7 separate regions of the Homo sapiens genome follow, and all the other regions are linked to region 1. A link means that fine-mapping ties the variant in region 1 to the plasma level of a protein whose gene starts in the linked region. Region 1 holds a variant in brackets. A gene starts in each other region. All regions are shown on their reverse strands. Region 1 overlaps CUX1 (cut like homeobox 1). Region 2 holds the start of CCL28 (C-C motif chemokine ligand 28). Region 3 holds the start of SDC4 (syndecan 4). Region 4 holds the start of SORT1 (sortilin 1). Region 5 holds the start of C1orf116 (chromosome 1 open reading frame 116). Region 6 holds the start of CXCL11 (C-X-C motif chemokine ligand 11). Region 7 holds the start of SPINT2 (serine peptidase inhibitor, Kunitz type 2).

What was found. PIP is the chance, under the fine-mapping model, that this variant and not a neighbour inherited with it causes the effect. The UK Biobank Pharma Proteomics Project read protein levels with antibody pairs (Olink). The fine-mapping took linkage between variants from a reference panel, not from the people measured, so its PIPs are less certain.
Region 2: CCL28 starts here. The variant in region 1 is fine-mapped to the plasma level of the CCL28 protein (UK Biobank, PIP above 0.99).
Region 3: SDC4 starts here. The variant in region 1 is fine-mapped to the plasma level of the SDC4 protein (UK Biobank, PIP above 0.99).
Region 4: SORT1 starts here. The variant in region 1 is fine-mapped to the plasma level of the SORT1 protein (UK Biobank, PIP above 0.99).
Region 5: C1orf116 starts here. The variant in region 1 is fine-mapped to the plasma level of the C1orf116 protein (UK Biobank, PIP 0.97).
Region 6: it holds the start of CXCL11, and the variant in region 1 is fine-mapped to the plasma level of the CXCL11 protein (UK Biobank, PIP above 0.99).
Region 7: SPINT2 starts here. The variant in region 1 is fine-mapped to the plasma level of the SPINT2 protein (UK Biobank, PIP above 0.99).

Annotation. Positions count from the first base shown.
Region 1 is chr7:101,854,254-101,858,345 of GRCh38, reverse strand. The region is part of intron 1 of CUX1 (cut like homeobox 1); the gene reads right to left. Among named protein-coding and RNA genes, the nearest start is that of CUX1, 39 kb to the right of the region's middle. RefSeq lists an enhancer at 1,295-1,424. The variant C/T (reference allele first, on the strand shown) is at 1,696.
Region 2 is chr5:43,410,313-43,414,404 of GRCh38, reverse strand. CCL28 (C-C motif chemokine ligand 28) reads left to right here and starts at 2,014. Exons shown (of 3, transcript NM_148672.3): 1 at 2,014-2,152. The coding sequence starts at 2,089.
Region 3 is chr20:45,345,502-45,349,499 of GRCh38, reverse strand. It overlaps SDC4 (syndecan 4), which reads left to right and starts at 1,076. Exons shown (of 5, transcript NM_002999.4): 1 at 1,076-1,175. The coding sequence starts at 1,116.
Region 4 is chr1:109,396,502-109,400,593 of GRCh38, reverse strand. SORT1 (sortilin 1) reads left to right here and starts at 2,676. Exons shown (of 20, transcript NM_002959.7): 1 at 2,676-3,007. The coding sequence starts at 2,702. It overlaps PSMA5 (proteasome 20S subunit alpha 5), which reads left to right. Exons shown (of 9, transcript NM_002790.4): 9 at 1-1,552. RefSeq lists an enhancer at 1,542-2,523 and silencers at 2,550-2,679, 2,720-2,789, 2,800-2,899.
Region 5 is chr1:207,029,408-207,033,499 of GRCh38, reverse strand. It overlaps C1orf116 (chromosome 1 open reading frame 116), which reads left to right and starts at 744. Exons shown (of 4, transcript NM_023938.6): 1 at 744-921.
Region 6 is chr4:76,034,156-76,038,155 of GRCh38, reverse strand. It overlaps CXCL11 (C-X-C motif chemokine ligand 11), which reads left to right and starts at 2,086. Exons shown (of 4, transcript NM_005409.5): 1 at 2,086-2,229; 2 at 2,814-2,940; 3 at 3,037-3,109; 4 at 3,340-4,000. The coding sequence starts at 2,169. The coding sequence ends at 3,363. It also overlaps a transcript of ART3 not described here and the pseudogene RPL36P8.
Region 7 is chr19:38,262,768-38,266,859 of GRCh38, reverse strand. It overlaps SPINT2 (serine peptidase inhibitor, Kunitz type 2), which reads right to left and starts at 2,287. Exons shown (of 7, transcript NM_021102.4): 1 at 1,862-2,287. The coding sequence starts at 1,967. RefSeq lists a silencer at 2,263-2,582 and enhancers at 2,739-3,656, 3,797-4,092.

The DNA of each region.
Region 1 (4,092 bases):
TCACAAACCAAAGTCGGCCTCTAAAATGGGATCCCCACCACCAACCCCAAAACCAGATACTACAATGCTCTTGGCCGGGTTTTTAGCCATGTGCTTGGTTAGCTGCTGCTTAACTTTATTCTTAAGGAATCTACATACTGCATTTTTTTAAAGCAGGTTCCCTGGTAAGAAACCCTACTCCTCAGAAACAACAAAAATAGTATGTTCTGTTTTCTCTTTTTTTGAGACAGAGTCTCGCTCTGTTGCCCAGGTTGGAGTGCAGTGGCACCATCTTGGCTCACTGTAACCTCCGCCTCCTGGGTTCAAGTGATTCTCCTGCCTCAGCCTCCCGAGGAGCTGGGAGTACAGGTGCGTGCCACCACATTCGGCTAATTTTTGTATTTTTAGTAGAGACGGGGTTTCACCATGTTGGCCAGGCTGGTCTTGAACTCCTGACCTCAAGTGATCCTCCCACTTCGGCCTCCCAAAGTGCTGGGATTACAGGCGTGAGCCACCACCCCCAGCCCTTACTGTTAAATGACCATGATGAAGCTGATTTCTACAAATACACCAGGAGGAAGAGCTAAGGGGGGAAAAAAATTCCCTGCAAAATAAAACGAAACAAAGCTCCTTGCAATTATGCAAAGCTATAGCACAGCTAAGTTATTCTGAGCTAACTCAACCTAGAGGGGTGACGGCCTGGCAAAGGGGGTCATCCGACCCAGCCAGACAAGCTCCGTCTTTCCCTTCCTGCTTCACTCATTTCTGAAAAGAACAGTTCCAGTTTAAAGTAACCCAGCAAATTCATCCTCAACGGGTGAAACCCCATCCTCGCTTCACCTGACTCAAAGCGTGCGCTGCTTTAATTCAAAACAGCTGACTTCGGAGGCCTACAGTCCTCATTTTTCATCCGTCCCCATCATACCAAAAGCAGACTATGTAAGTAAGAGCGGTGAAAGGCCTTTCTGTGCTGAAAACATATTTTATGTATTGAAAAGTACTTGGTGGCCACGCATCTTAACTCCTGAAGAAGAAAATAGTTATTTCTTTTTATTTCTGCAGATATTTCAAAAATATGATAGGTATTGAATGCTAGGCCTGTGACAGGCAAAATGCCCTGTAGGAGGTGCCCGGGTTTCAGAGTCAAGCACAGCCCCCAATCAGATAAGCAGAGGCCTGGGAGAGGGAGGACATCAGGACCCACGTGACGCTAACACCGGGCGGGGTAAGGGCAGGAACATGGCGCAGGCCCAAAAGTGGCCCGCGGCGGGTGGTACGGGGCAGGACAGAGTCCACCTGCTGGAGAGGATCTGAAGGGCCTCGTCCTAACAGAAACAGGAACCGGAGCTGGGCAGGACTTCAGAGGCTGAAGGATGGGAGAGGGAGGGTGCGCCCAGGAGGAGGCACAGCTTGAGCAGAGGCGTGGCTGCATGACCGCGGAGGGAGGGTTCACACCCGGGGCCTGTGGTACGGCTGGCAGGCGTGGGAGAGCCAAGGTGGGGACACAGAGAGGTCAAGGAGGCCGAGGCCGAAAAGGGACCACAGAATTTGGCTACAAGAAAGCAGTTTCAGTTTAACGATGACAAGGGAGCCCGAGTGAAGAGGAAAACCTGTCAACTCCTCGTGAAAGTCGGGAGGGTTTCTGCGTAGAAAAAAACAGCGTTCAGCAGCTCAGTTGGCTGCCGTGAAGTCATCAGAACTAGAGGAAGAGTTGGA[C/T]TTGCTCTAGTGAGGACAGCTTTTGAAGTCACTAACCACAAGGAGGAAGCCTTCCCCTCTGGGCCTGCAGGAAACAGATTGCGTGGCTTTGTCTGTCCTGGCTGGGGAACGCATGACACGCTGAAGGGTTTTCCAGCTCTAGGGAAGAAAATTCATCTTTCTGTAAAGTCCACTTCGTCTTCCATTATCTACCAGACTTCTTGATGGGACCATTTTTAGAGCCTTCAGTGAAAGAATGGAAAACACTAACTTGGATAAACAATTAAGAGTAGGGAGGGAAATAGGTGAAGACGCAACTCTGATGAAATAAACAAACCGCAACCGTGGAATAACATTCTGGTTATTATGGGTCGTGATTAACGGCTCCCTGCGTTGATGGCTGAAAACTTGTGCTTTACTGCACACTTCCAGCAGAATTTAGCTGCTTTTTTCTTTCTTGTTTCCTTTTTTTTTTTTTTTTTTTTTTTTGAGACAGGGTCTCACTCTGTCACCCAGACTGGAGTGCAATGGCTTGATCATAGCTCACTGCAGCCTTGACCTCCTGCTGGACTCAAGCGATCCTTCAGCCTCAGCCCCCAAGGAGCTGAGACTACAGATGCACGCCACCACACCTGGCCAATTTTTCTTATTTTTTGTACAGACGGGTTCTTGCTATGTTGCCCAGGCTAGTCACAAACTCCTGGGCTCAAGTGATCCTCCCGCCTCAGCCTCCCAACGTGCTGGGATTACAGGCGCTAAACCAGCACTTAAGCTGCATTTTTTTTTTTTTTTTTGAGCTGGAAACTCCTTCTACCGCCCAGGCTGGAGTGCAATGGCACAATCTTGGCTCACTGCAACCTCCGCCTCTCGGGTTCAAGCGATTCCCCTGCCTCAGCCTCCCGAGTAGCTGGGATTACAGGCGTCTGCCACTGCGCCCAGCTAATTTTTGTATTTTTAGTAGAGACGGGGTTTCACCATGTTGGCCAGGCTGGTCTGGAATTCCTGACCTCGTGATCCACCCGCCTTGACCTCCCAAAGTGCTGGGATTACAGGCATGAGCCACCGCGCCCGGCCTTAAGCTGCTTTTTAACACATGGGGAGAACACAGAGAAAGTACCAAAATGAATGTTGTAACTCAATTCTAAAATACGTGAAAATATACTGAAGACTCTTCCATTGCATCATCTTGTAAATTCAGGTGAAATCCTGCCTGTCCCTACCTAGGCCTCATTTTCCTTATCAACCTATGAGAAACGACCAGGCATTTCTTGGGTCCCCAGCACCCTGGAGAAAGAGACCACTCGGAGGACACGGCCCCTCACCTCATGGTCCCCCTGGCAGGCAAGGCCACCGGGCCAATTAATGGAAGTCAGTGACCAGCAACTGGAAGGGCTACAGGGTTTGGGAGGAGATAGAGCCTCTGAGGTTGGAAAGGCGGCCAGGGTTTCACTGGGAGGCAGGGCCTGGGCCAGGCTCCAAGGGACGGGGTCCAGCCCCCAGCAAAGCATCAGCACACACTTCAGCAGGAGGTAAGATGCCACGGCACTGGGGAAATTTTTAAGCAAGAGGGAAGAGGATGCATTAACAGAGAAGAGGGAGGTCACCATTGTGGGGCATTGCAATCCAAATTGAGTCCAGGCCGGGCGAGGTGGCTCACACCTGTCATCCCAGCACTTCGGGAGGCTGAGGTGGGAGGATCACTTGAGGTCAGGAGTTTGAGACCAGCCTGGTGAAACCCCACCTCTACTAAAAATACAAAATTAGCTGGGTGTGGTGGCACATGCCTGTAGTCCCAGCTACTTGGGAGGCTGAGGCACAAGAATCGCTTGAACCCAGGAGGCGGAGGTTGCAGTGAGCCAAGATGATGCCACTGCACTCCAGCCTGGGTGATAGAGTGAGACTTCATCTCAAAAAGAAAAAAAAAGAAAGAAAACTGAGTCCATTTTTAGTCCTTTGAAGTGTGCAGGTGTGTGTGACTAAAAACAGGCAGAACCATCACTGTTGAGAATGGGGTGCCACAGAAATGGGAGACAGGGTGTCATTTCTTACTCCAGCAATCGGAGGAGGCAACTGTTAGGAACAGCCCCCACTGGCTGAGCAGTGGCCAAGAGGCACCTCACTTTATGGAGGGGGTCCCTTCCAAACACTAAGAACTTAGGAAGTTCTCGCCACCCAGAGATAAGGGAATGGAGATGCCCAACCCCTAAATGATGGAGGCAGGATTTGAGCCCAGGCCTCTGGTGCCAAAGCCCCCACTGCTTCCTCATCCCATCACCACCAAACAGGCTCCTATGCTTAGGAGACTGGCTTTCTGAGCATTTCATAAAGTTGCTCTGCAGACAGACTCCAAACTTGTGTTAATCATATGTTACCCGCTGGCAGCCCGGCTAGAAGGCGCTCACAAAAGATGACTTTGAA
Region 2 (4,092 bases), not on the chromosome of region 1:
CACCCTCTAAGAACCTCCACATGTTCAGCTATCCAGAAGCTCTCCAAACTCTGCCCTTTTGGGGTTTTACAAAGGCTTCATTACATAGGCATGATTAACAACCATGTAGAAATGTGATTAGACAAAAAGCACATAATCTAAACCCAGCAAGTCCTGCCTGTTCAGGCTTTTCTTGGCCTGTGTAGCATTCCTTCCTCTAGAGTATGGGACAGAACCCTTTCTGGAATGAGGATCTTATGACCCACAATCAGATTAGAGTCCTGCCTTGGGCAGGTGAAAGAAAAACAGAAGGTCAGAGAGAGATTCCGTTTCCTGAGGCCTGTTCCTGAAGCCTAAAGTGCCCCAACATTATAATATAAAAAAAAGACTGGGCTGGGCACAGTGGCTCATGTCTGTAATCCCAGCACTTTGGGAGGCCAAGGCGGGTGGATCACAAGGTCAGGAGTTCAAGACCAGCATCTTGCCAAGATGGTGAAACTCACTCCAGCCTGGGCAACAAAGCGAGACTCTGTCTCAAAAAAAAAACAAACAAACAAACAACAAAAAAAAACTGTAACAAGGGTTATGGGAGTTATAAGCCAGGAACCATGGATAAAAGCCAATATATATATCATAACACCACAACCCGAGACTGAGCAATTTATAAATAACAGAAATGTATTCTCTTACAATTATGGAGGCTGGGAAGTCCAAGATCAAGGCTCCAGTGATTTCAGTTTCTATTTCCAAGATGATGCCACTTTGCTGCATCTTTTGGAGAGAAGGAGCATTGTGTACTCACCTGGCAGAAGAGCAGAAGGTACCAACCCATTCCCACAAGCCCTTTTTATAGTAGCATTCATCCATTCATGAGGGTGGAGCCATCATAACCTAAACATTGTCCATTAGGCCCTATCTCCCAGCACTATTAGGGATTAATTTTCAACATGAGCTTTGGAGAAGAAAAAAATATTCAAACCACAGCAGTAATTTGAAAACATAAAAAGAAATGGGTGAAATTAATTTTAATAATATATTTTATTTAACCCAAAAAGTCCAAAATACTATCATGTAATCAATAAACAGTATAAACATTATTAACAAGATATTTTATATTTTTTTCTGTACCCAGTCTTTGAAATCCAGTGTGAATTTTATACCCATAGTACATCTGAGTTTGGACTACTCATATTTCAAGTGCTCAAGAGCCACATGTGGGCTAGCGGCTACCACATAGGACAACACAGTTCTAGAGGAAGCATGGCATGACTTTGGAGGTCATCTAGTCTGACTTGTTATTTACAGCAAAGTTAAGTACGTTGCCTGAGGTTATACAACTTATTAGTAGATGAGGAACAATTAGAATCCAATTATCTTCATGCTACCCCATGCTTTTATTCACAAAGCTGATTGGCAGCAAAGCTGCACTAGCGCTCATGCCTCTTCACACCTGCTCTTGGGCTCTTTTCTACAAGGCATTGCCCCCCTTCCTGTCTTTCTCCTAAATAAGCTATTGTAAAAAGCTTCACTGGAAACAATTTGGCTGTGAACCAAGACTAAAGTGGGGTTTAATACTTCCATATCTTTCCACAAAGATACATTTTTTATGACTTGTCACCCTTGTCCCCAGAAACTCATGGTTTCCATAAGCTACTTAAAAACTGATTATGCAATGGGTCTCAACATAAGTGTCCATCAGAATCACCTATAGAGCTTTTACAAAATTCAAATGACTGGTCTCCTACCTGGGAGTTCTGGTTTACAAATCAGGGAAAGGGGAGAGTCATTTAGATTGATTTTTTTTAATGTTCCCCAAATGATTCTGATGCACACCCCACCTCACAGTGACCCTGCCAGCTGCCAGATCTCCATTGACATCCCCTGACCCCCAGGCAGGATGAACACAAGTTAGGAGCTTAATAAGTCGAGGAGGAGCCTGGTCTTAAGGAAAGAAACATGAGAAATAGATACCCTGAACACCTCCCAGGGCGGGGCCACCTGGCTTACTTTTCCTCTGCACTTTCTCTGTGCCCAAGGACACCTTTAGCCTCATTTCCTGATCGAACAGCCTCACTTGTGTTGCTGTCAGTGCCAGTAGGGCAGGCAGGAATGCAGCAGAGAGGACTCGCCATCGTGGCCTTGGCTGTCTGTGCGGCCCTACATGCCTCAGAAGGTGAGTGGGGGCACTGGACACTTAGGCCTTCACTGGAAAGGGGGGTATCTCCCAAATCTGTGCTGGAAGGATTGAGGTGGGGCAAGAATATCTATCTCTTCAAGCAGGAATTTCCAATTGATTTCTGATTACCTACAAGAGAATGACATAGCTTTAAATTCTAGATCTCCCAGAAGTTTCAGGAAGGAACCTCATTCTAACAGGCATACTACAAATTTTTGCCACCTGGAGGATGAGGTCCTTCCATGTAGGTACAACTTCGAGCTATGTTTCCTTTTCTGAAGACAGTATCTTAGAAAATCCCCAGCTAGAGGCTGGAGTAAAGCCCCTACTATTCATCTGTCTTCCTCCACACCCCAACCTGCTAAACGGTCTGAACACAACTGTGCACATTCCTGGAGGGAAATACAGACTTGGCCAGCTGCGTTCAAATTAGGTAAGTTGTAAATTTCCTGAGCAAAGTCAGCTCTATGGATACAGAAAACTGAAACTTCAGTCTGACCTTTAAAAAGGGAGGGCAGAGCTGAGCACAGTGGTGCATGCCTGTATTCCCACCTACTTGGGAGGCTACGGCTGGAGGATAGCTTCAGGCCAGGAATTCAAGATTGCAGTGAGCTATGATCACACTGTGAATTGCCACTGCACTCTGAATTGCCACTGCACTCCAGCTTGGGCAACATAGTAAAACCCCATCTGTTAAAAACAAAAAGAGGGGAGGGGAGGGGAAAGAGAAGGAAAGGAAGAAAGGAAAGGAAAGAAAGAAAAAGAAGAAAAGCAGGATGAGGGAGATTGAACCATACAAATTATGTCAAAGAGAATTTAAATCGTGAGTTGCTAGCATGTATTTGGAGATTGTAACTGCATTTGAACTAGAGGGAATCTCTTCTAAAGTAGCACTCACTACTATATTCAGGAAACCCTAAGTGTCAGTACTTAATACTTGACCAATGACTCTTTTCCATTGTCATCTTTTCTTTAAGCTTTATCCTGAACAGATTCTCTAAGTCTAGAGCAGAGGTGGAATATAAGTCTTTGGTCTGCTTTTTAAAAATCTGAGCCAACATTTTAAAACTGAAAGCTTTCTCATGTACATACTCATACATACACACATACAAATTGGATTTTAAAGCTTCTCTTGAGAAATCAGATGTGGCAACAATGATTCCACCATACCATGGCAAGAACTGGCTAAAGCAGATGAGCCTCTGAAGTTTGCTGTATTAACTGCCTGGTCCCTGCAGGCATTTGCTTAGGGACTCCCAATATAGTCCGTCAATGTACTGGGCTTATACAAATAAGCAACAGAAAAAACCTGGACAATCTCTTCTCAATTTCTACTAATCTATCTATCTTATCAATATAAAGACAAAAATTTGTCACTTTATGTTTCTGTAACATTTCTCAGAAAAATTCACCATTGAGATTTGGGGACTCATTTTCACTATTTCTGAAAGGCCTACCTGCTAAGGCTTCACTCCTAGTTCTGGTAATTCCACCAACTCAAATTTTTTACATAAAACTTTGAAATGTGTACCTCCATCCAGCTTCCTGACCTACTCCCACCTGTCCCCACAGCGGCAGCTCTCCTACAGGAAAGGAGGGAGGGAACAGCAGGTCGAGGAGGCAGAGGGTAATGAGGAAGGCTCTGCCATACCCAGGACCCACCTTCACATGGGACTGAGTCCTGGTAGAGACGGTGGGGTGGAACGGCAAAATGCAGAGGTGTGTGAAAAGGTACGGCTGCTGGTGATAATAAGGAAGGGAGCCGAGAGACCCAGCAATAGCCTTTTGGGTTAGTCTCGATGCTTTACCTAAGGCAGTTTAGGCCACAGGAAAATCACATTGCCTGAGAAGCTCCAAACTTCTGTCATTTAAAAATAAGTGATACTGGGTAAAAATACACAAGTAGGCCTGAGAACAGTCGTGGAATAGAGGGGCAA
Region 3 (3,998 bases), not on the chromosome of region 1:
GCCTCCCAAAGTGCTGGGATTACAGGCATGACTCACTGCATCCGGCCTGCATTTTTATTATAAAATGTCATTTATTTATTTATTTATTTATTTATTTATTTATTTATTTATTTTTGAGACAGGGTCTCACTCGGTCACCCAGGCTGGAGTGCAGTGAGCGATCATGGCTCACTGCAACTTTCACCTCTCTGGCTCAAGCAGTCCTCCCACCTCAGCCTCCAGAGTAGCTGGGCCACAGGGGTGCACCACAATGCCTGGTTAATTTCTTTAAAAACTTTTTGTAGAGATGGGGGTCTCATTATGGTTGCCCAGGCTGGTCTCCAATTCCTGGGCTCAAGGGATCCTCCTATTCCTCGGCCTCCCAAAGTGCTGGGATTACAGGCGTGAGCCATAGAGCCCAGCCGATTTTTGCATGTTTAAATGGTTGGGAATAAAGTCAAAAGAATAATAATATTTCGTGACACATGAAAATTATATTAAATTCAAATGTCGGTGTCTATAAATAATGTTTTATTAGGACCTAGCTGCCCTCATTCCTTTAGTATTTATGGCTGCTTTTGAGCTACGACGCTCGAGTTTGAATAGTTGCCACAGGGATCGTATGGCCCGCAAAACCTAAAATATTTAGCCCTTTACAGAATAGTTTGCTGTCCCCTGTCTTAACACGGTTCACATCCCATTTGGGAAGTTCTGTGTCTTCAGAGGGGAGCACACCCGGTATGAAGGCTGGTCTAAACTCAACACCCTAGGGAAGTCCTTCCCGTCCCTGGGCCTTAGTTTCCCCAACTATAAAATGGGGTTAGCCGCAGTGATCTCTGGGGACCTGCCTGGCAGTGGGTCAAATAAATAAAGGGAGTTGGAGCTCCCGGAGGGTAGGACTAGGGGTTGAGTAGGAGCCGGCGGGCTCGGGCAGGGCGGGTCCCTTGGGGTTTCCAACTCCGCGGGCGGGCGCAGTGCCCCGCAGGCCTCGCTTCCACTGGGGAATTCCGGGCGGGGTGCGGGCGGCGGGGCGGGGGCGGGCCGGGGCGGGGCCGGTAGGCCGCCTATAAGATGGGTGGCGCGCCCGCCCGGGGCCACTCGCCGCAGCCTGCGCGCCTTCTCCAGTCCGCGGTGCCATGGCCCCCGCCCGTCTGTTCGCGCTGCTGCTGTTCTTCGTAGGCGGAGTCGCCGAGTCGGTGGGTGCTTGGAGGTTCCCGGGCTGGGGGCGAAGCGGGGGCGCAGGCCGGTGCCTCCTTTGTTCGTCGGAGCGTGGGATGGGGGGGGGCAGATCGGGGGTACGCTACCCCCAACCGGACACCGAGGCCCGGGAAACTTTGTTGGAAACTTTGCTCCGGGGTCACGGGCCAGCCTCCGGGATGGCTTCACGCGCCGTGCGCCCCTCGCCTGTTGCTCTTCCCGCCTCCCCGGGCCTCAGCCCCGCCGCGGGCTACGGGCTCGTTAGTGACTAAGCCGGTGTCAACTCTTCAACTCCCACACCCTCGTCCCTTCCCTGGTGACCCTGGGGCAGGCTTGGAGCGCTGAATCCCCTCCTCGCTCTCGGGGCGCCCAGAGCAGACAGCTTTAGGATCCGAGATGGCCCTGGGGGTCGGGGGGCTGCGTGTACTCGGAAGGGGGAGGGTTTTAGGGTTGTGCGAGGCCCTCTTTCACACACCAAGGAGAACTGAGCCCTAACCTCAGTTCTGGCCCCAGCTCTGTCATTGACTTGTGACTTAGGGCAAAGTCCTGCCCTTCTGAATCTCTTCCCAATACTGCACCAAGGGTCTGAGGGAATGGGGCAAGAGGGGACACTGCGTTAGGGTTTCTAGAAAGTTGGGGACTCTGCTCTTTTCGAGGACAGAGGAGAGGAATGGTTTAGACTCAACACTTAGCCAGGAGCTGAGCCTCTGCTTTCTGCAAGAAGTGTGTTCATTTTTTCTCAATTGCAGATAAGAAAATTGAAGCATCCACCTTGAGTGAGGTGAAGGGGGTAGGGGGGAGAGAAGGCCTCAATCAGCCCAGGGAAACCTTTCCTTCTCACTGTCCACTGGCCTCCGTCATAGCTGTCCCTGGGCCAGCAGAAGCTCTATCCATGCCCGCAGCCGGCTTAGGAGGAGGGGGGCAATCTCATCTGGGAAGTTGGGGGGCATGGGAATTACTGGTGAAGGCAATCTGTCCCCCACAGCCTGAGCTTTGTGCCCCCTTTGTGCCCTTTAGCCCCAGTTTTCAGAGCGAGTGAGTCCTTGCAGTTTAACCATTAATGTTAATTTCTTTGAAAGCCTTGGGGCTCCTGTTCCTCTGAATTTACTTAGCGGAAGGTTGATTCTGCCTGCAGGCTCTTCTTGAGGAATGAATGAGACCCTAGGCAATACTTCCAGCACAATTCCAGGCATGCCATGATGATTGCAAACGTGGAGCGCCTTTGTCGGGGGGCCAGACATTGCTCTAATAACTTTCTAATGGGTATATCCAGGAGCTTAATTCCAACAACAATCTTACTGTGTACTGTTCTTAAACTGGTCCTGAGGCTAGAGAGGTTAAGTAACTTGCCCAGGGTCACACAGTTAATACACAATAAATGGGTGAGTCAGATTGAAATTTAGGCAGCCAGGCTTTCAAGTTTCTGCTTTAGCTTAACTTCTACTCTTTGTGCTACTCCAGGTGTCCCATCGTTGGTAACTAAAGACGGGTTTAGAATAGGTTGAGATTTTAGGCTGGAAGGCAAAGGAATTCTGAGGTGGAAGGAAACAAGGCCAGAGTGAGGTGATGACTTAACCTAAACCAAAGGCTACCTTGCCTAAAATGTTAGTGGCTGAGGACCCAAGCCTTCTGCCTCTAGCACAGTGCTCTAAACTAGGCCCTGAAGGATGTGTCGGGTCAAGCAACTGGGGAAGCATCCGAAGGGATACCACCTAGGCAGTACAGGGAAAAAGAGGAAAGGACCCAGGAGGTTGCTGAGGTCACCGTGTGCCCAGTCACATGCCAGTTTCCTCCCAGGGGCTGCTGAGCCTTCAGGTGCTTCAGGGTGCTGAGCAGTCAGCTGTGTCCTGGGGGCATTCTGAAGGATGTAGTTTGGGGGAAGGGGACTGTGTCAGTCCTGCCTGGGTGACCCATCAGCTGCAGGAGACATCAGCCCTGGGCAGCTGCTTCCTGAGATAGGTGTCAAGTCTCATCCTGACCTCAGCTCTCCCCTTCCTGGCTAATGTCACAGACCTCCTGCCTGTAACTGGGGCACAGGGCTTCCCCTTTGGCCTGTCCCCTCCCTCTTTTCTAGATTGTGGTTGGAAAAATCAGACATAGTCACGGTTGGCTCGGACTGAAGAGATGATCCAGCGTGTCCTTTTCTTTTTGCAGGTAGAGAAAAGTGAGGCCCAGGGAGAAGGACTTTGCTAATAGCAGTTAGGAGTGATAGAGTACTTTTTATATGACAGATCTGGTGCATTTTGTCCTCACAAAAAGACCTGTCACATGGGGATTCTATTATGCCCACTTCCCAAATGTGAGAGGTAAAATGGTACTACTTTGGGTTAGTAGAGGGCATCCAGGACCCCAGGATCTCTGACTAGTAGCCCTCCCATTGTGGGTGGTGTTCCCCCGACTGTTCCATCATTCCCCTTACCACCCCCATATTTTGGAAGGGAACCCAGGCTCAGTACCCAGCTGTCCTCTCCTCTGTTTGGCTGGGCTTGCTATACTAAACCAGTTCTTCCTGTCCAGCTGGGAGCATTCCCTGATCTGCCTTCCTGCCACTCCCTCTCAGGCCAATTAAAGGCAGCCTTGTTTTGGGAGTCCCCTCCACCCAAAGGTGTTCCTACCCAGGGGCACAGCCTACTGACTTGGCCCCGGGCCCAGGCGGTTGTGGGGAAGTGTCCCCCACCTATCACCTATCAAGTGTACTTTAGCTTAAGGACATTTCTGGTCTTCTACAGCGTCCTCTTCTTGATTACATGGGAGTAGGGGTGGGGGCGGAAGCCTAGGGGCTTCTAGGACCCTTGAGTGAACAGTGAGAGCTCTTGGGACTT
Region 4 (4,092 bases), not on the chromosome of region 1:
ATGTTCCAGAGACTTCTAGTGATTTTAACACTTATTAAGTATAGCATGTTGATGGGGAGATTTGTTTCTCTAAAGATCACTTTGTTTTATTAAATCCTAATAGAAAATACCCTTGAAAATCCTATCTCATTTATTCCTGTAACAAATTTATTGAGCACCTACCTACTATATGCCAAGAAATGTATTAGCCATCAGGCAGAGAGCTGTTCAAATGGTAGATATGATCTGTGCTCCTGTGAAACTTCTAGTGGGGAGAGCCAAACAATAAACAATATTCCTTTTTAACTCTAGGTTAATGCAGAAATGGATAAAGCCCATGTTGCTTTTGGGAGAGGTGAGTTGTGTCTCTGAATCACATGCATTTCATAGGGGGAAAAATGCCCAAATACTAAGGAGTAGCTCTTAGCCTATGTCCGTTCGCCTCAGCTTAAGTTGTTTTCCCTCCCACTGGCTGGGCAGCATATTTGTGTTTTACCTGGTAAAACAGTAAATTTCGTACCTTCTATAATTGGCATTCTTCAAAGAGGTAGAACTTTGATTTTTTTGTAGAATATTAAAACAAGCTTTCTTAGGTTAAAGAAGTGATCTTACTACGAACAGCAATGGTTTCATGATGTGTAATTGCTTTATGTTATCTTTCTGCTATAGAATGTTTCCTGGAGAAAGGTACGGTTTTTAGTAATAAGATAAATTTACTTTAGTCCTGCAAATAAGGTGAAATCTTATGTCCAGTATCTCACAAAGGAGAACTGACAGTGCCACTTTTATATTTAATGTCAATCTCATTAGACAAAAATGAAATATAGTTCCTAGGGTTTCCAATTTAAAAAGTGAAATAATAAATATATTCACTCAAACATTTTCTCAGTGCCATATGCAAGTTACCATGTCCCAGAAGCTGATACAGTTTGAAGAAGGAAATATATAAGTACTGTAAGCCTGTGATAACTAAAAGCAACATACTAAAAAGTGAAGGTACAGATAATTGGAACAAATTTAATAGCGTTTAAAAGTGTATTTGGTAATTTCTCCAGGAGGTGGCACTGTTGAGTTGTTTTTTCTTTTCAGACAGTAAGACAATAGACCATTCATCTTTGTGTCACCCAAACAAAGAAATATTCCTTTATAACCCCCTTTCCTCCCCCCACCTAATCACATGCTACTGGAACTGACTGTCTTGTGATCTACTCCCATAGTTGGCATAGATTTAAAAATAATCTTTTTTAAATTAATCTGATAGTAGTTATGGAAAGGAACAAATTGTTCACCAATTTTCATCAGCTTTATCTTTTCAGTCCAGTAACTGAGAACTTAAAAAGACTATTCTAGTGATTTTACTATCCTGCTCAGATGGCATTCAAAAACATTTTTCACTTCTCACGTCTTGGAAAAATTTGTAAATTCGTTAAGTCTTTTTGTTTGAAAGTTAATGTGACTGGAAATATTTTAATGTAAATATCGGGTTGGGTGCATTGTATCATTTTGCTCTACAATGACTATATCCTCATTTGGGTTTATGGCCAGTTTATAATTAAAAGTAATCTTTACTTGCTTTGAGTGTAATGACTTGCATATTTTGTATCTTTCTATTTGCTACCTTTTCTACTGAACAATTTCTAGCTTTCTGAAGGGATGGAGTCAGTAAGCTTAAGGATTCAGAACTGGTTTTACCTGTGCTACGTGTTGTAGAAGTTGTGTGTGCAGCTTCTGCGGTAAAGGGAACAGCGTAGGGGTTTTATTTTATTCATTAGAGGTGGATCGGGGTGCTAATTTAGAGGACATCACATACTGGAACCAAACTTGTCCGAAGCTCTCACTGCAGAGTTAAGGCACTTTGGTAAAATAAATGTGCATCTAGGAAATGATCATGTGTACAGTAGGCATTGGATCATTCTCTTGCCCCTCTTTTACCTGCCCCTAATGCCTAAGCTACATTCGAAGTCCTGGAAAACCTGTAAGTAATTCCGCCTTTGGCCTACCTCCCCTCAGAAGAGGAAGGTGAGAGAGGCCAAACGTATGGAAAGACTATTCTTCAGGCTTGCAGGAGTCACGGATGTCCTGATGTCTGTCTCCGTAGGATGTGGCCCACATCAGTTCGCATTCACCTTCTTGCAGCAAGGCAGCTGCTTAGCAGACAATGGGCGCTCCAGTGAGCGGGGTTTATAAAAACCCGAAGCCCCGGTTCATGATGGAGCCCCCTTTTCCAGCTGAGCAAGCTCAGGGATTTCCTGGGTAGGTTTTTCCAGGCTCTGCCTCACCGAAGGAATTTTAGGAGTGTCTCTGGGGAACAGGAGGGACGTAACCCAGCCCCAACTTGAGGGCGCTAGAGGTGCGGCAAGGGGTCGCGACGCCAGGAGCCCGGGGCTCGGCGGGAAGGTATGAGAAGCTCCTACGTGAACTCCACAAGCCGGGCCCGGGAGACGCCGGGCGAGGCGGGGTTGACCTCAGCAGTCTCTGCCCCGTTCCAGCCAATCAGTCCCGCATCTTAGCATCCGAATCCAGGACCCCCGAAGCCGGAGGCGACGCGAGCCAATGAGGAGTGGGCCGGGGAAGAGGGACAGGCGGCCAGCCTATGGGGCGGAGAGGCCCGGCCGCGCGTATCCAAGGAGCGCCGCGCTCGGCTCGGGGGTGTGGCGCGCGCCGGCGGGGGTGGGCGGGCGCGCCGGGCGGCAGGTGTCGGCGTCGGCGGCATTCGGCGGCGATGGAGCGGCCCTGGGGAGCTGCGGACGGCCTCTCGCGCTGGCCCCATGGCCTCGGCCTCCTCCTCCTCCTGCAGCTGCTGCCGCCGTCGACCCTCAGCCAGGACCGGCTGGACGCGCCGCCGCCGCCCGCTGCGCCGCTGCCGCGCTGGTCTGGCCCCATCGGGGTGAGCTGGGGGCTGCGGGCGGCCGCAGCCGGGGGCGCGTTTCCCCGCGGCGGCCGTTGGCGTCGCAGCGCGCCGGGCGAGGACGAGGAGTGCGGCCGGGTCCGGGACTTCGTCGCCAAGCTGGCCAACAACACGCACCAGGTGAGCGGGCGCCGGGCCCGGGAGCCGCTCGGGTGCGAGGTGCCGCCCGCGTGCCCCTCCCGGCCCGTGCGCCCCGCGACTCCCGGAGGAGACCCCAGCCCTGCCGCGCCCGCGTCCCCCGGGCCGCAGCCCCGAAACTGCGGCGGGCGGGCGGGCGGAGTCGGGCCCGGGCGGCCGGCGGGGCTGTGTTTTGTCATAGGGGAGGCAATCTTAGACTTCCACCGCATTCTTTTTTTTTTTTTTAAGTTGTCAAAATCTCTTGAACATCGTTTTTCGTCTGTATAAATAATCAGGACCCAGTAACGCTGTTAGGCCCCAGGAAGGTGAAGGAGTAATTAACTCTTGAGCGCTTGCAGAAGTTGGGCTGCGCAGAAGCAAAGGTGTGTCCTCTCTGGGTCAGTACTTTCCGGGTGGGAGAGGCGGGAGTTCAGGAGGCCCGAAGCAGCGATCTGGTCACCGTGTTTTAATAGTTAAGGGGACTAGCTTGGAAATGAGATGGCAATATTTATGTGATCTCTTTTACTGCTTCAGATTTGACCTTCTGTCATGGTACGGAAGTCTGACTAGCATGTCTATATCCCGTGGTGACAAGATTTTCAATAGTTAAGAAACGCATTGCACATATTCTGCTTTGAGCCAGCTCTTGGTCAAAAGACTTTCAAAATTATGGGATTTCTGTCCCTGGGGACAAGCAGCTCAACCTTTGCACACTACTGGACTGACAAAACTAATTATTAAGAAAGTCCTGGTTCCTTGCTTCAGCACAACTTGGGCATCTTTCTCCTATTTCTCTAAAATTAACAATTTAATCCTTGCTAGCCACATTTGCATAATGTATTTTCAATTCTATATATTTTCTCCCTTGCCTGTTTTCCTCTTTCAAAGAAAATGAATTGCACTTGGGGGCAGAGATGGGTGGCCAAGGCTCTGTGCCAGCACTTGTCCTTCTGTAACCGTTTTTCAGCGTCAGCCAAGCCTCAGTCTCCCTTTGGACTGCCTGGTTATCTGGACCATACTTGTTACCTGTAATAGAATTCTCTGATCTGAGGACACAAGACACAAATATTCAGGAATAATTGTGCTTA
Region 5 (4,092 bases), not on the chromosome of region 1:
TGTTTTGTTTTTATTTCATAATATGTATTGCCACCTTCCATGAACAGCCAAAAGAGAGCAGAGGACCAAATGACAGAGTGCATGCTCTCTCCTTTCAAGCTGTCCAGTCACTCTTTCATCAGGACACGGACCTCTTAGGGGATGAATGGTTTTATTTCCCCCAGAAATAAATTAGGCCAAGGAGATTGTTGGCAAGCACTGGGGCGAGACTGGCCCAACTACAGCATCCCTAGCCTGGGGACACCTTCTTCAGTGGACATGAATGGAATTGCTAGGCTTATGAGCTAGGATTAGGCTTGGGGAAGAAAGTGACTTTCAACATCTAGAAAAGCTAGCAGCAAAACTGAACACAAATGAGTTTAGCCTAGAGAATTCAGGGGAAAACTAAGCTCCAAGCGGAAGAAGGTAGTTCTAGATGAAAAACCTGTTTCACATAGACCTATGGAAAAGCACACTGCCCAGAGGACTGTCTGCGTTCCTTTATATCAACATTAAATATATATACTATCTCTGCCTACTCCCTCCCTGCCACCTGTCCTTCCAGTCTCAGCCCAAACCGGCTCCTCCTCCTTCCAGCCCTCCTTTTTTAAAGAGCTCTTTATTAGCTCTAAACAGGAAAGGGGAGGGTAGGAGATGATTGGCTAAGAGGGAACAGCACCACCCTGCTCATTCCCCTCCCATTCCCTCCCTGAGGAAACAGCTGGAATGAGAGGTAGGGAGGGGAGGCTAGGATTGGCTGAGTCAGTGGCAGGGTGGGGGCCAGGCAGCACAGATGAAGCATTTACCTATCTAGGTAAGTCAGGAGGAGCTCAAAAGGAGAAGAAAACAGTAGGAGGCAGGGGAAGCAGCCTCTGTCTCCATCTCTGCCCTTTGAAACAAAAGGGTATTTCTTTTCTCTCTTCAGCCCCCAACCCAGTGGAGGTGAGTTAATCACTAACCAACTATTGCTTATCCTATAGCAATAGGAAGGGGTTTCATGGGAAATCAGAGCTACAGGGGAGGGGAGGTGTCCCTCTATACCCCAGCTAGGGAGATTTCCTCTCTGTTCCTCAATTCTCTGAGTCCATTCTGGGATCAGATCAGGTTGGTAGCAACTTGAGATTGTAGTGTTTTTGTGGAGACTGGGGCTGGGAGGCACCTTCTTTTTCATTTATCCCTTTAGGTTGGATAGGCATATTGTGCAAACAACAAGAAAAAGAAAATAGATTTGTTTTGGAAATTTCCATCTCTGAACAATTGAAATTGAGTTGTGATTTTAGAAAAGAACAGTTGAAATAGAGGGAGTCAAAATGGGGGAGAGTATCTTGGTTTTCCATAGCGACTGTAACAGGAAATTCTCCCGTGGCTTTACCAACTCGGTGTCGATCTTTATTTAAATAATGGGTGCAATGTGTGTGTGTGTTTGATCATGCTCATGTGATAATGGAGCTCTCTGTGTACAGGTGTGTTAGGCATGAGCTGTACTAGGTTGTTTGTAAAGGGATATGAGGTTGGGGCACATGGAGAAAACTTCAGCTACCAGCTCATCTTTGGAAAACCCATGGATAATCTAGCTGCAAAGTCAAGTTTATTTGGATTCTACTCAATTAACTTTCTGACTCAGCCTGTTAATAGACACAGAGACTGGCAAACAGAAAGCTACCTGGCTGTGCCGAGCCTCACCCACATGAATATTTCGTGGCTGCATGTCAAGTCTAGTTAGAGTTCCAAGTGGGGCTCAAGCCAAGGTAGTGTGGCAGAGTCCACAGACAGAGAAGCAGACCAGGGTGGTGGCTTTGTTTGTTTTCCTGCAGGTGTCCCAGTTGGCAGTTTGTGTGGCAGATTTACCTGCAGAAGGAAGGCAGATGTAGGAGTCGAGTCAGAGTAGCAAGTTGCCTCTCCATTATCCATCTTGGGGGGTTTAACCCTTTGGTCCCTAACTTTGACTCTTTTCCTCCTGCTGCAGAGAAGAGGGAAGTGGGAAGCCCTCAGTGCCAGGCTCAAGGGCCTGGCACACGCAGCCCTGAGTGAATATATGGGTTTTCCAGTCCTGGCAACTGGAGATTTAGGCTTGAGCTCACCTCACACCACAGAGCCAACACCCCACACTCACAGACTGAGGGCTGCCCTAGATGGTGAATTTAGGAATAAAGACCACTGGCAGTGTCTAACAAAGCTCTGCTATGCAGAGGGTATTTCTACCTGCTCCTTCCCTCAAACACACTGGTGAAAGGGAAGATGATAATGTTGCCTAAACACACACAGAAACTTGCCCATGTGTTCATGGAGACAGATATGCAAACTGTGCAAGTTTTAGTCATTCTGCTATTTTTCTTAGGATATTTTCCAGCCCAAGGCACATTTCTGGGTAGTCAACAAGAAGCAAAGACACCTGGATTGAAAGACAGGAAACCTCTTTGACTAGTAGGCAGAGAGGCAAAGCTCTTGGAGGACATGTGGGGGGTTCGTGGGAGGAGGATGAGAGGGACCTGGGTCTGATTAGAAGGTACAGACAAGCCAACCTGGAATGGAGCTGGAGCCCTCTCCCCACCCCACCATCTCCAGATGCCAGAACTTGAACTGTTCTTTATTTCCTCTCCTCCAAGGCTTGGCAGTATTTAGTATTTTAGTCAGTGGTGTAGTTAATATTTAATGTGTCTTTGGATGGGTGGCCCTGACTATAGGTGCTGCATATTTCTTAACCCATTCCCTCCTCCCGTTAAGTTCCCAAAGAGGTCAAGGGTTAAGATACCAAACTCTCACCTTGAGTGTTTTGTTTGTTTCTCAGTCTTCTTATCAGGGTTTCGATGGCTGCCCTGAAAGAGCCCCAAGGTTCAAGGTTGTGAAGTCGGTGAAAGGAAATGCAGCTTTCACCATTAAGATTCTTTAGGTCAGAAAACTAGGTATGGAGATGAGGTGACAGCGCCTCGCTCAGCTTTGGTTTCAGGTTCAGATTCCTCTGTGCAGGGATTATGTAATCCCTAAAGACATGATCTTCCTTGGCAGTTGGTGTCATTTCTTTACTGTAGAAATATCTGCTGTTGGGGCAATACACTGGTCTGGAAGTATAAAGCTGAAGCAGATGATTTGCAGGGTTTAAGGTATGAAGTAGAAGGAGAAGGGGGTTTTAAGGCTTTTAGTATTTTAGTCAGGGGTGGCTAGTAACCATTCTCGGGGGCATGCCCCTCTTGCATCCAGATAGTCCCTGAAATGCCCTGTGGAGGGCTGCCCTGTATATGCATGTATAGGTCATTCCCTGTTTCCCTTAGGAAGGGCTAGTGGTAAGAGCCATAACTTTCTCACCCGTAAAATGAAGAAAACGTCACATCCTGCCTATGTTTCCAGTTTATGCTGAAGATCGAATTAGCATATCTGAGAGTACTTTGCAAGCTATGGCATGCTGTGTTCTTGTGAAGCAGTGCTTTTCCTACCACTTTTATCTCTTCCAGCTACTTGAAGACATCCTAGGTTCTGAAACAAAAGTGTGATAAGCTTCCCTGGTAGGAAAGAGAGACTAGAAAACCTCTGTAAAGTCTAAAGCATACTTAGAAGCACAAGGGTAGTAATTTTCTCTGAAAGTAAGAGGCAGCATCTGCTCACCCATTCATAGAGAATATGATGTTAATTACAGTGAGTCACTTTAAATATTTACTGCCCTGATTTTACAGAGAAGAAAATTGGAGCCCAAAACTAGACCCTTAGATCTACATTGACTTTTTGACAACAATGCCTTTGTCTTATACAGTTTTGTAACACCAGCGCCTATTATTAGGTGCTCATAAATGTTAGTTTAACTGAAAACATTGCCCAAATTTCACTGAGCCATATATTATCCAGGAAATTAAGTATTTAAGTAAAAGCTGACAGTTATAGGTTAGAAACCAAGAAGAAGCCTTCCAAAAGCTCAACCTAATAGACCCTAGAACAGATGGCAAGTTCATTCATTCGGCATTTTTTGAGTGTTTTCTGTGTGCCTAGACTCACAGAGATGGAGCTCCTTTGCTATAGTGGCCTCAACCCTACACAATGTTAGGAATGGGTTAGTCCTCCCTGAACTTGGGCATCATTCATGGAGTGGGTAGCTGAGATGACTGAACTTCATCCACATGATTT
Region 6 (4,000 bases), not on the chromosome of region 1:
AAAATGTCTATGTGATGGGATGAAGTGATGGAGCAAGATGATGTGAGATTTCATCATGCTACTCAGAAAAGTGCACAATTTAAAACTTATGAATTATTTCTAGAATTTCTCATTTAATGGGGGACTACTGTAAAGACTTTCAAAGGTTTTAAAGACTAGTCATGGTTGTTAAAGAATTTAAATGCAGGATTATATCTAAATAAATATATAATTTCAAGATAAAATGCAAATGATAATTCTCAAAAAAAGAAGTTGAATAAGATAAAATAATAATCTAAAAGTAATAAACTGGCTATAAATTCCCCGATTATACCAACTTTTATTGGTAAAACTAGGAAATAGGAGAAAATTCTTGAAAGAAAGTTACAGTGATTTTCTCATGTTACAAAGACAGGAGCTAAAAAAATATTATTGATGGTTGATGTAAATAATTAGAAAAATTCAGGTAAAAATCTTTTTAAAGAATTTTAAGAATTAATATCAAAATGTAAAACAATGTATTCCTTTCAAATTACTTAAGGAAGGCCAAGCACCGTGGCTCATCCCAGTAATCCTAGCACTTTGGGAGACCAAGGCAGGAGGATTGCTTGAGGCCTGGAGTTCATGGCTGCAGTGAGCTATGATTGTGCCACTCGACTCCAGAATGGTGACAGAGTGAGACCCATCTCATTAAAAAAAACAAAAATGGCTTCAAAAAGTTAAATAAAATATATTTAAAGTTAGAAAGAAATCAAAGAAAACATAAAGAATCAGCAAGGAAGCATTTTAAAAATTACAGATTACCAGTTATACAGTAAATATATTTTATTAAGCTTACCCATTAGAAAGCTCCTTTGATATGATTTTCTTAAACATCTACAAGTGACACACTTAAAACAAAGATTTAGGAAGCTTAAGAGGAAAAGATAAAGACAAAAAAATAGGAATTACATCAAAGTAGAATCTCAGAGGTAAAACTATCACATGAGCAAAGAGGATCACTTTTTTTTATGATCCCTAATACAACTCATACAACTTCATGTACTAAGTAACAGTGCTAAAATATATATAAAGTAGCTTTCCACCATGGCCACCATTGGAGGGCAGCAGCCATGACACTGCACTACCCTATAGCTGTGGGCCTCAACAAGGGCCACAAGGTGACCAAGAATGTGAGCAAGCCCAGGCACAGCCACTGTGGGCGCCTGACCAAACTCACTAAATTTGTGTGGGACATGATCCCAGAGGTGTGTGGCTTCACCCCTAACGAGTGGCGTGGCATGGAGTTACTGAAGGTCTCCAAGGTCAAACAGGCCCTCAAATTCATCAAGAAAAGGGTAGGGACAAACATCTGCACCAAGAGAAGGCAGGAGGAGCTGAGCAACGTCCTGGCTGCCATGAGGAAAGCAGCTGCCAAGAAGGACTGAGCCCCCTGCCATCTGCCTATAATGAAAGCTTTGCAGAATAAAATAAATATAAAATAAAGTAATAAAATTAAATTAAATTTAAAAATAAAATAAAGCAAAACAAAATAAAATATATAAAGTAAAAATTGTTGAAAATGCAAAACAATATGGACATAAATACAGAAACACAGGGAAACTTCTTTAGGCACTCATTTACAGGTAAAAATATGAAATTGAATAAAGGTCATCTGGTGTCAAATAATATAGGCCTTATCTATTATAAGAGTTTGGACTGAAAAGCAAAAGTGAGATAATAAAAAAAAGCTTTTCAGAATATTATTTTGTATAGATATGTGAAGGATGAAGGGTGGGTGAAAGGACCAAAAACAGAAACACAGTCTTCCTGAATGAATGACAATCAGAATTCCGCTGCCCAAAGTAGTCCGACAATTAAATGGATTTCTAGGAAAAGCTACCTTAAGAAGGCTGGTTACCATCTGGGTTTTCACAGTGCTTTCACATTCTTATCACTTTCAACACTACTGCAAATAGGAAGGGACAGTAACATTTAGAAGAGAACAAAACAGAAACTCTTGGAAGCAGGAAAGGTGCATGACTCAAAGAGGGAAATTCCTGTGCCATAAAAGGATTGCTGGTGTATAAAATGCTCTATATATGCCAATTATCAATTTCCTTTCATGTTCAGCATTTCTACTCCTTCCAAGAAGAGCAGCAAAGCTGAAGTAGCAGCAGCAGCACCAGCAGCAACAGCAAAAAACAAACATGAGTGTGAAGGGCATGGCTATAGCCTTGGCTGTGATATTGTGTGCTACAGTTGTTCAAGGTATGCAGTAATTTTTATTTCTCAACCTATAAGTTCCTTTTCTAATGTTTCAAATGTCTTTTCTTCCACTTTTATCCTAAAAGACATGATAAAGTTTTATTTAATCTCACAGATTAGAAGTTACTACAGCTTTAGCACAGAAATGGTGGACATGTTTAAGATACTAGAGATGATTATTGAAACTAGAAATTATGAACTTCATGGAATTTTTGATTTGGCTAGAATATCTGGCAAAAGCCTTTAGCAACAGTTTTAAATGTCTGTTAAGAAGATTTTATATAGCGATCATGTTAACAAGCTTCCTGGGAAAATATTTGAGGATAAAATCAAGGGGGCAAAACAAGCTTCACCTCCAATAAACTTCCTTCATGCTTCCCATTTGTTAGCGATTTGCTTACTAATTTAATGAGAAAATAATCAACATCTTACTTAACTTTTCCCAGTAACAGTTGTGTTAAGTGCTATTTGACAAATTACTATCTTTACCCTTAATGAAAATTCTGCTCACGTTCACCACCAGCTATAAACCACAGCCATCTGTTGCAATCAGATGCATTACTAACTAATGCTATGATCTATTCTAGGCTTCCCCATGTTCAAAAGAGGACGCTGTCTTTGCATAGGCCCTGGGGTAAAAGCAGTGAAAGTGGCAGATATTGAGAAAGCCTCCATAATGTACCCAAGTAACAACTGTGACAAAATAGAAGTGATGTAAGTAATGAACTTGCTGAAGATGACAATGGTGCAGGCTTTTTTGTTTATGTATTTGCATCTAAACTTTAAGACTCTTGTATGTTCTTTTAACAGTATTACCCTGAAAGAAAATAAAGGACAACGATGCCTAAATCCCAAATCGAAGCAAGCAAGGCTTATAATCAAAGTAAGTTACCAAATTACTCCCATGTTATAATCTGTTTTATCCAAGACAGATCTTTTGAAAAAGAAAATAATGTGGACAACTACAGAAAGATTCTGCTATGATCCTGTGTGAAATATTCTGTTAAGGGGTCCTTGGTTGTAACAGCTTCCCCTTCTTACTACATGTTTTTAGATGTCCTGGGGGAAACAAGAACAGCCCAAGTAAATAAAACTCTTGTTTTCTTATTCCAGAAAGTTGAAAGAAAGAATTTTTAAAAATATCAAAACATATGAAGTCCTGGAAAAGAGCATCTGAAAAACCTAGAACAAGTTTAACTGTGACTACTGAAATGACAAGAATTCTACAGTAGGAAACTGAGACTTTTCTATGGTTTTGTGACTTTCAACTTTTGTACAGTTATGTGAAGGATGAAAGGTGGGTGAAAGGACCAAAAACAGAAATACAGTCTTCCTGAATGAATGACAATCAGAATTCCACTGCCCAAAGGAGTCCAACAATTAAATGGATTTCTAGGAAAAGCTACCTTAAGAAAGGCTGGTTACCATCGGAGTTTACAAAGTGCTTTCACGTTCTTACTTGTTGCATTATACATTCATGCATTTCTAGGCTAGAGAACCTTCTAGATTTGATGCTTACAACTATTCTGTTGTGACTATGAGAACATTTCTGTCTCTAGAAGTCATCTGTCTGTATTGATCTTTATGCTATATTACTATCTGTGGTTACGGTGGAGACATTGACATTATTACTGGAGTCAAGCCCTTATAAGTCAAAAGCATCTATGTGTCGTAAAACATTCCTCAAACATTTTTTCATGCAAATACACACTTCTTTCCCCAAACATCATGTAGCACATCAATATGTAGGGAGACATTCTTATGCATCATTTGG
Region 7 (4,092 bases), not on the chromosome of region 1:
TTCTGGTTCGAATTGCAAGAATGATCAACGTCTGCATTCCTGACTCCCAGTCACCTACAGCTGAGCCTCTCCCCACCAATTCACTTTTTTCTCCTGCCTAGGGCACAGAGAAATTAACCAGTCCCCAGAAGTTACCACAGGTGATGACTTGGTACACACCTAGCCTGCTCTTTTTTTTTTTTTTGAGACTGAGTCTTGCTGTGTCGCCCAGGCTGCTGTGCAGTGGCTTGATCTCAGCTCACTACAGCCTCCGCCTCTGGGCTTCAAGCGATTCTCCTGCCTCAGCCTCCCGAGTAGCCGGGACTACAGGTGTGCACCACCATGCCCAGCTAATTTTTGTATTTTTGGTAGAGACGGGGTTTCATCATGTTGCCTAGGGTGGTGTTGAACTCCTGGCCTCCAGTGATCTGCCCGCCTTGGCCTCCCAAAGTTCTAGGATTACAGGCATGAGCCACATCACCCGGCCTTCTTTTTTTTTTTTTGAGATGGGAGTTTCACTCTTGTTGCCCAAGCTGGAATGCAGTGGCGCGATCTTGGCTCACTGCAACATCCGCCTCCCGGGTTCAAGCACCAGCACCTGTCTATAAAGCCCTAGGCCATCTGGCTGCAGCCAACCTCTCCCACCTCCCATCCTCCTCCAGTCCTCCCCTCCTTCACGCCTGCTCCAGCCAGGCTGGCTCTGTCTTTTCCCTGAACCCAACCAAGCTTGTTCCAGCTTCAAGGCCTTTGTACTCTATTGCCTGCAACTGGACACTGGTCCCCCAGGTCTCCGTGTGGCTACTGCCTCATTCTTCATGTTAGAGCTCAGATGTCACCCTCCTCACGGAGACGTCCCCCGACCACCTGAGCTAAAGCCGCCCCCAACATCTTACGTCACCCTGTTGGTGTACTTCACCTGGTTCATTTAATTCTCAGTAACTTAATCTCATGGCAAGTGCTTTTTAAACCTTCACTAGCTCTGCCTCTCCCACTGGAATATTAGCTCTGTGAATGCAGGAACCCAGCTAGTCTGAGTTAACTGTTATAACCAGCGCCAGTGCCTGACACGTAGCAGGGCCTCAGTAAGTTTTGCTGAATCAATGAATTCTTGCTTTCAAGAGAGCTCTTTTCAAAACACGCTGGTGCTTGTCTGAAGCAGTTAAGGTTATAACAACACTTGTTCAAAGAGACCTTTCAGACCACACTTCCTTAAGAGTGTAGAAGTTTAAATCACCTTATTCACCACCGACTTCTAAGGGCCAATCCAAAGACCCCAACACCAGCTGCTCAACGCCAATACTCTCTCGAGCCTTAGCAGAGCTTCCTCTTCCCCAAAGCTTGTTTCCTTTCTTGCTCCCTCCTTCTCGGGCACCTACTTTACTGCAACTCAACTACAAAAACTTCAGGGGAGGCTCTTGTCCAATCTCCAAAGAGGCAGGGGTGAGATGGGCTTCTTCCGAGTCTAAAACGGCCACCAGGTCACCCAACCCAACCCCCACCATCTCACAGGCCTGGCCTCTCCCTGAGCTTTGGCCATGGAACTTTCCACCGCCAGGAGAAGGCTGGTCTTCAATTCGGCTCCTCACCCCGTTCTTGCCACAGGAAGGGGCAGTGCCACGCCTTCTTGGTCAATACCCCTTGACTCTTCCTCCACCCGAAGGAAACTCTCCTAACCCTCGCTCCTCCGCCCGTCTTCGCTGTCGAAGGCTCCCAAACCTCATTTCAAGGCTCAATCCTCCAGGGCTGGTTCCACCACACCCGCTGAACGCCATCAAGTAGCCCCCAGTTTCCTCCCCCGCCAGTTCTCCCTGCTCAGACCCCCGTTGACCCCCGAGCCTCTGCCCCCTGCGCCCCGCCTCCAGCCTACCCGCCCGGCCCTCACCGTGGATGCTGCGTTCTCGGTCGGCCGCCAGGACCCCAGAGAGGAGCAGCGATCCCAGCAGGGCGAGAAACGCCCGGCTCCGCCTCAGCCCGCACAGCTGCGCCATGGCCAGCTCAGCCGAGACGCGCAGGCGACGCCACCAGCCGTTGGGGTCTCGCGATCAGGTGCGGGAAGCCCCTCAACGCGCACGCGCAATGGAGCGCCTCGCGTTCAGGTGCCGACGCTCCGGGAGGGTCCGCCAGGTGCCAAAGCCCCCGGAAGTCGCCTTTCCGGACCTTCAGTGTGGGGACGCCCGGCCTTCTCGGCGCGCGATGCCTGGGTCTGCTCCTCACTCGCGCCCTCGCCGCCTGCGACACTCAACGGCCCTCAGCGCGTTCAGAGCCGCGCTACACCTCCCAACGCGCGGAGGTCGCCAGAGCCAATGGCGAACGCCTATTGGAAGCGGCTCCCGAAGGTGGCCGGGCAGGCAGGGGGCGGGGCGCACCTGGCTAGGCAGGGCGAGCTGGGCGCAGGCGCAAAGGGCAGGCACCTGCGCGGCCGCTCCCCGGCCCTGGGCGCACCTGGGCCCGCCCCTGGTGCCGGGGAAGAGGCGGGGCTTGCGCGGGCCTCGCCCCCAACAGAACCTGGCGGGGCGGGGCGGGGCGTCTGCCCGCTGAGCACCTGCCACCCTTCCCTTGGGCTTGGTGACGACGTCGGAGGAGGGCCTTCGCTCTAGGACTGGCCTCAGGGTGGGAGGAGGGGGCGGCAGACACGCGTTTCTTGGAAGCCTGTGGTTTTCTGCCCGCCTCGCCGCAGCTTTCCTGTGAATTCCTTCCTGAATTTCAAAGTTCACTGGGCTCATGCTCCAGGGCTTAATGCTGGGGACCCAGCGGTGGCCATGCCAGACTGGTCCCTGAGTCACCAAACAGGAACGGCCCAGAGTAGTGATAGCGGAAGCTTAGCACAAAGTGATGAAAGCTGTGATGGGGAAGGCCAAGCTTAGGGATCAGAGGCTGGGTCGCTAGAAAACCAGGGCATGATGGGAGCCCAGACAGCTTTCCCATCCAGCCTGAGAGAGGGCCAAGGAGGGCTTCCTGGAGGAGGTGATAGGCCCATGCAAAAACAGCCCCGAGCCCTGGCTCCAAGGTTCTCAGGACAGATATGGAGACAAATACTTAGCACAGGCAGCATCAGAATTGAGAGGAAGGAAGCCCCTGGGGAAACCCAGAGAAGACACCTGACCAAGCCTGGGAGTCAAAGAGGGCTTCCTGGAAGAGGAGTTACGTGAACAGACTCTAGAAAGGGGAATGGAGTGGGGCAGGCACACGAGTAGAGGATAGCCAACAAGGTAATCAACATAAATGCATTATTATTGAAAACACTTTTAGATTATTTCTTTTTTTTTTTTTTTTTGAGATGGAAGTTTTGCTCTTGTTGCCCAGGCTGGAGTGCAATGGAGTGATCTTGGCTCACTGCAGCCTTGACCTCCTGGGCTCAAGGGATCCTCCCACCTCAGCCTCCCAAGTAGCTGGGACTACAGATGTGAGCCACCACATCCAGCTAATTTTTAAATTTTTTGTGGAGACAGGGGACTTGCTATGTTGCCCAGGCTGGTCTCAAACTCCTGGCTTCAAGGGATCCTCCTGTCTCATCCTTCCAAAAGTGTTGTATTACAGGCGTGAACCACCACACCTGGCCTGAAAACACTTTGACAGTGCTATACAGAAAAGGAATCAGGGGCTGGGATGGAAAATAACAAGAGATCTTTTGAATGGGGTGGCGGAGGAAGGGCTTTGTGAGGGGTGGCTTTGATAATGAACTCTGAAGGATGATAAAGGCCAAGGGACAAACATTCCAAGAATCAGGAATGGCACATGCGGAGGCCTTCAGGCAGGAAAGAGAATAGTGTGTTCAGGAGCCAGGGCCACTCCCACTCTTCAGCCTCCCTCCTAGCATAATAATACATGAAAAGCCGTAACTGAGTTATCAAAATGGTATTTACCTTAAACAATGGAAGTCTAACCTTGCAATGAGATCATGGGACTCAAGGTGGAATCTGAATGTGAGGCCAAAGGTCTCCCCCAGCACTTGAATCTCCCACTGCCACTCAGGCCTACTAAACCTAGGCTTGAGCATGAAAACAGAGAAGTATGTGCTGAGCCGTCAAGGCTTGGAAGAAGGTATAGGCCTCTTCTTTCTTTATTTTATTTTATTTTGAGACAGAGTTTCACCTGTTGCCCAGGCTGGAGTGC